2 separate regions of the Homo sapiens genome follow, and region 2 is linked to region 1. The links come from fine-mapping of genetic effects on gene expression. A gene starts in region 1. The other region holds a variant in brackets. All regions are shown on one strand. Distances are from middle to middle. Region 1 holds the start of MYCL (MYCL proto-oncogene, bHLH transcription factor). Region 2 overlaps TRIT1 (tRNA isopentenyltransferase 1).

Region 1 (2,907 bases):
TGCCTGTGCCTTGGGGCTGCAACCAAACCTGGAACCCTTCTGATTTGTGTCTTCCGTTTAGCACAAAGCAGGGCACACAAGCTGTCTCAGTGAAATCTGGTTAGCTGAGTCCCTCAGTAAGTCAGTTAGTTCACAAATGTCTGCCAGAAGCTGTTCTAGGTGCAGAAATCACAAAGCAAGTAGGAGCAGGTTTCTGCCTTCAAGATGTCCCACATGCAGCACAGACCCAACGTATCTAAAACGGAAGGCTGTCATTTTCCCTGCCTTCCCAACCCATATAACAACACACATCCGTGTCCCATGCTCCAACCACACTGAATTGCTTGCCCTTCTCACTTCCGTCTGCCAACAGTGAGTAGTTTGGTGTTCTTAGACCACAGGGGTGGGAGGGAAAGAGAGAGACAGCAGACAATCAGGCTGGGGTAGACAGACACCAGACCTTGATGCCAGGTGGAGGAATCTAGATGTATTGGCTGCTGTCCCAAGTTACTCTCCTCTGGCCTAAATCTCAGACTGGCCGTATAGTTTAATTTTTTCTCTTCCACCAAAGGTCATCTGTGTAGAAGATGACACAAAGGGGGACCCAGCACGGTGACCCGTGCCTGTAATCCCTGCACTTTCGGAGGCTAAGGAGGGAGGATCATTTGAGCCCAGGAGTTCGAGGCTGCAGCGAGTCATGATCGAGCCACTGCACTCCAGCCTTGACGCTGAGTGAGACCCTGTCTCTTAACAAAATATATTTAAAATTTAAAAAGAAGATTATACAAAGGGGTTATCTATCATCTTGGCCAGCAATGCAGGGCAAAACTTGAAACAACTTGGTCCTGCAGTATTTTCCAGATGCCAAATCCTCATTCTCTACTGTACAGCTCCTACAGTGTTTTGTGTGAGATGAGAGGGAGCATGGCGGGTCTCAGCTGGCTTTGCCCTGGGAAAAATTCCTCATTTCTGCACCGCCTCCCCAAAGCGGGGGCTAAGCCAGCGCCGTCTGCCTCTCCACCTAGACCAGACCCCTTCCCTAGATGCTCTTATTTCCCTGAAGCCTCACAACAACCCTGTGAGGTAAGCATTACCATCCCTTCATTTTACAGATGAAACTGAAGCTCAGGAAGGTTACGTTTCGGGCTCTAAATCCCGGAATCTTCGCTTCGATGCCATCCAGGCTTGGGCCACTGAGCTCAAGAAACGGGCCGACGGGTGACCAGACGGACGCCGGGACCAGCCCAAGTTCAGGGCTGAGGGCCGCCAGGTGGCGCGTTTCCCTCCCCCTACCCCTCGCGGCGGCTCGGGCGCACCTGAACCCAGCGGGGTGCGCCGGGGAAAGTAGGCGCGCAGGGTGGGGCGGGGAGTAGCCCTAATTCCCCAGCTCGGAGTGGGCAAGGAGCACGGTTTAGCTCAGCCGGCTGGCACCGCCAAGCGGCCGCCGGGCCGCATCAGCCCTCCTCCTGTTTGCGCTCCCCAGCGTGCAATTTATTTGGGGGGCTACCGGGGATTGAACGGAGCGGGCGAGCGCTGCCAGGAGGTGGGGCCGGCCCCACCTGTCGACTGCCCGTAGTAGGCAGGGAGAGGGCGGGGTTTGTCCCATAGGGCCCGCCCCCCAGTCCCTGGGTCCCGGGCGCGCGACGAGATATAAGGCAGTCAGGAAACAATGCGCCTGCAGCTCGCGCTCCCGCGCCGATCCCGAGAGCGTCCGGGCCGCCGTGCGCGAGCGAGGGAGGGCGCGCGCGCGGGGGGGGCGCGCTTGTGAGTGCGGGCCGCGCTCTCGGCGGCGCGCATGTGCGTGTGTGCTGGCTGCCGGGCTGCCCCGAGCCGGCGGGGAGCCGGTCCGCTCCAGGTGGCGGGCGGCTGGAGCGAGGTGAGGCTGCGGGTGGCCAGGGCACGGGCGCGGGTCCCGCGGTGCGGGCTGGCTGCAGGCTGCCTTCTGGGCACGGCGCGCCCCCGCCCGGCCCCGCCGGGCCCTGGGAGCTGCGCTCCGGGCGGCGCTGGCAAAGTTTGCTTTGAACTCGCTGCCCACAGTCGGGTCCGCGCGCTGCGATTGGCTTCCCCTACCACTCTGACCCGGGGCCCGGCTTCCCGGGACGCGAGGACTGGGCGCAGGCTGCAAGCTGGTGGGGTTGGGGAGGAACGAGAGCCCGGCAGCCGACTGTGCCGAGGGACCCGGGGACACCTCCTTCGCCCGGCCGGCACCCGGTCAGCACGTCCCCCCTTCCCTCCCGCAGGGAGCGGACATGGACTACGACTCGTACCAGCACTATTTCTACGACTATGACTGCGGGGAGGATTTCTACCGCTCCACGGCGCCCAGCGAGGACATCTGGAAGAAATTCGAGCTGGTGCCATCGCCCCCCACGTCGCCGCCCTGGGGCTTGGGTCCCGGCGCAGGGGACCCGGCCCCCGGGATTGGTCCCCCGGAGCCGTGGCCCGGAGGGTGCACCGGAGACGAAGCGGAATCCCGGGGCCACTCGAAAGGCTGGGGCAGGAACTACGCCTCCATCATACGCCGTGACTGCATGTGGAGCGGCTTCTCGGCCCGGGAACGGCTGGAGAGAGCTGTGAGCGACCGGCTCGCTCCTGGCGCGCCCCGGGGGAACCCGCCCAAGGCGTCCGCCGCCCCGGACTGCACTCCCAGCCTCGAAGCCGGCAACCCGGCGCCCGCCGCCCCCTGTCCGCTGGGCGAACCCAAGACCCAGGCCTGCTCCGGGTCCGAGAGCCCAAGCGACTCGGGTAAGGACCTCCCCGAGCCATCCAAGAGGGGGCCACCCCATGGGTGGCCAAAGCTCTGCCCCTGCCTGAGGTCAGGCATTGGCTCTTCTCAAGCTCTTGGGCCATCTCCGCCTCTCTTTGGCTGAAGCTGCCCGTGTAGTCCCCAACCGTGTCTGTCTGGCACGTGGGTGTGTTGGTAAACAG
Region 2 (2,907 bases), 65 kb after region 1:
ATGGCTTGGGCCTGGGAGATTGAGGCTTCAGTGAAACATGATCATGCCACTGCATTCCAGCCTGGGTGGCAGAGCAAGACCATGTTGCTCAAAAAGAAAATAAAACTAACAACCCCCTCCCCCAAACACACATGCATGAAATCAACCTTTTATGAATGCAGTGACTTGTCAATATCCCTAGCACCTAGACACAGTCAAATATTTGTTGAATCAATTGCATGAAAGCATAAAAACTAAGTAGGTCTCTACATAAGTGATCTGCTTCAATTGTTAAATACTTTTTAACCAGGATGAAGAAATTTTGGGATAGCCACCAGCAGGAATTTCTGTATTTGATTATCACCTACTTGGGCAGTTAAGGCTGTTTTCTAAAATGATGGCTAACTGGTTATTTGTAAAGCTACTCTGAATGCTTACAAAGGAAGCTGCATGTTTGTATTAGTTCAGGTAAAAGGCTAAGTTGCTATAACAAAGAGACTCAACAATACAGTGGCTTAAAGAACAAAGAAGTTTATTCTTTCTCACGTAACAGCTCTGAAGGGAATTAACCTGTCTGAAGTGAGTGATCCAGGTCATTGGGGCAGCTGTGCACCAAATGGTCATTCAGGGACACAGATTCCTCGTATCATGTTGCTTCTCCATCCTCTGGAGCATTGTCCTCATCTGCTGCATGCTTGAAGCTGGGTCATCACTGGTCCTAGCTGATGGGAAGGGGAAAAGGAACAGGGAGGAGGTAGACCCGCTGCCTCAAGGCCTGGACCCTGCAGTGGCACGGATACTTCTGCCTACATTCTCACTTTCCATTGGCAATGACTTAGCCCGATGGCCACACCTACCTGCCAGGAAGGCTGAGAAACGTAGTCAAGCCATGTGCCAAGAAGGAATGGGAGGACAGGTTTTGGTGGGCAACTTACAGTCACCACTAGATTGGTATCATGGAAGGAGCACTCAATTCCAGGCTCATTTAACTAATTAATTTAACTCAGTTTGCTAGGGGCAAATCTATTTCTCCATCTGTGAAATTAGTGAGTTGTATTGAGCTGACCTCTGAAATATTTCAAAAAGTAAAGCTTGAGAAAATCCTGGCTGGTAGGACTTTAAGATGAGAATAAGAAAGCATTATAGGGAATGGGAGACTGTATAAAC[A/C]TCAGGGCCAGTGGCTCATACTGTAAAGATGGTGGGGAGGAAAGATGGAAGGTGTTTTGGTGGCATTGTTGAATAACTGAACTAATGACTTAACTGCCTACTTTCAGACTTTATGTGGCAGGGAGGGGACAGGGGGAGAAAGAAACCACTATTTGTATTTGCAGCTGAACACTTTACTTTCTAATATACTATCTGTGTGATCTTGGGAATATTGCTTAAAAGCCTGTTTCCTCATGTATAAAATGAAGTTATCTGTATTCCACGGGACATGGTAAGGATTAAGTGAGGTCCTGTTGTAAATAGCATAGTGTTTTGGCACTGTAGTGCCCAGTAAATGGTAAGTACAAATTGGATTTATTTGCTTCATTGGGGAAAAATTGTTAATGCTATTAAAATGTTGGTTTATGATATGGTATCATTTCTTGGAAGTTATCAGGGCAAGCTCTGACTTAAGACTGACTAGTTTGGTGGACTATAGTACTAATGGCCAGAAACGGTGCCTCGGGCTTCAGCTGCCACCCACCTAGGCTTCAGCTGTTAAGTTTTGTTTGTTTCAATGATATGATTTCTTCCATGGGTCAGCTCATTTGCTTGAACTGTTTTCTTCCCTTGAAATGTCCTTTCCCCTGCTCTTTACCTAGTGAACTCCTGCACATCCTTCAAGGCCCAGATCTGATGTCCTCTCCTTAGAAAAAGCTTCTTTGACTCTAGGGAGACTTAATTTCTCCTCCTAGCAGTTAATACGTAATAGTGTTAACATTAGCTGGTGCTTAGGTAGTCCTATGAGCTAGGCACTGCTTTAAGCACTTTTACACATATTAACTCATTTAATCCTCACAAAGCCCTATGAGGTAGTTTTGTCATTGTTCTTGTTGTCTCTGTCTTACAACTGAGGAAACTGAGTAGAGCAGTTAGGTGACTTTCCCAAGGGCAAGCTGGGATTTGAAAATAGGTGGGTGGCTCCAGAGTCTGTTCTGGCTCATTATTTTGCCACAGCTCATAGCACCTGTTATTTATCTCTTGTTCCCACTGGAAAGTAAATTCTGCCAGGATCTGAGTACTATTTTAAGATGATTGTGGAACATATAGTGGGCACCCAATGTATATCGAGGCTAATTTCTGCAAGACACACCTCCCTGTCTAAACGTAGACATGGCTTCTCTGTGTTGAGTGCTTCTGTGTGTCAGGCATTATATCAAGCACATGCATACGTTATAATGATTCCTTAAAACAAACGGACAAGATAATCTGTTATCACCATTTTATAAACACAGCTTAATGAACAGTGGTTGGCACAGAGTAAACATGCAAATATTTGCCGAGTAGCAGAGATAAAGCTTGGTGAGGGCAGCGATGTTTGTCTGTTGTTCACTGCTTTATCCCTGGCATCTACAAGGGCCTGCTGCTTAAAAGCACTTATTTGTGTTTTTGTTTTTTTACTTGAAGTCAGCCTTTTATTTTTATCCAGATTTATTGAGATATAATCGACAGATAAAATTATATATATTTAAACTATATAAAGTGATTTTATATATGTGTATATATGTATGTGTGTATCTATCTATCTATCTATCTATCTATCTGTCTATCCATCTATCTATCTATACCACCATCAAGTTAGTTAACACATCCCATAAACATTTGTTGAGCTAGGATTTGAAGCCAGTTTGGGCTGACTCCAAACTCATACTCTAACCACAACCCTCTACTTCTGCAAGGGCATTTCTTTAGGGTTTTTGAATGTACAAATTTAGGGTTTTT

Evidence for each region. PIP is the estimated chance that this variant, and not a neighbour inherited with it, causes the effect.
Region 2: its variant is fine-mapped to the expression of MYCL in whole blood (INTERVAL, PIP 0.97).

Annotation. Positions count from the first base shown.
Region 1 is chr1:39,900,756-39,903,662 of GRCh38, reverse strand. MYCL (MYCL proto-oncogene, bHLH transcription factor) reads left to right here and starts at 1,746. Exons shown (of 2, transcript NM_001033081.3): 1 at 1,746-2,724. The coding sequence starts at 2,229. RefSeq lists silencers at 1,173-1,382, 1,643-1,962, 2,373-2,492.
Region 2 is chr1:39,835,671-39,838,577 of GRCh38, reverse strand. It overlaps TRIT1 (tRNA isopentenyltransferase 1), which reads left to right. Exons shown (of 11, transcript NM_017646.6): 11 at 1-468. LOC105378667 (a long non-coding RNA gene) reads right to left here. Exons shown (of 4, transcript XR_947221.3): 4 at 623-701. Among named protein-coding and RNA genes, the nearest start is that of LINC02811, 20 kb to the right of the region's middle. RefSeq lists a silencer at 1,475-1,675. The variant A/C (reference allele first, on the strand shown) is at 1,147.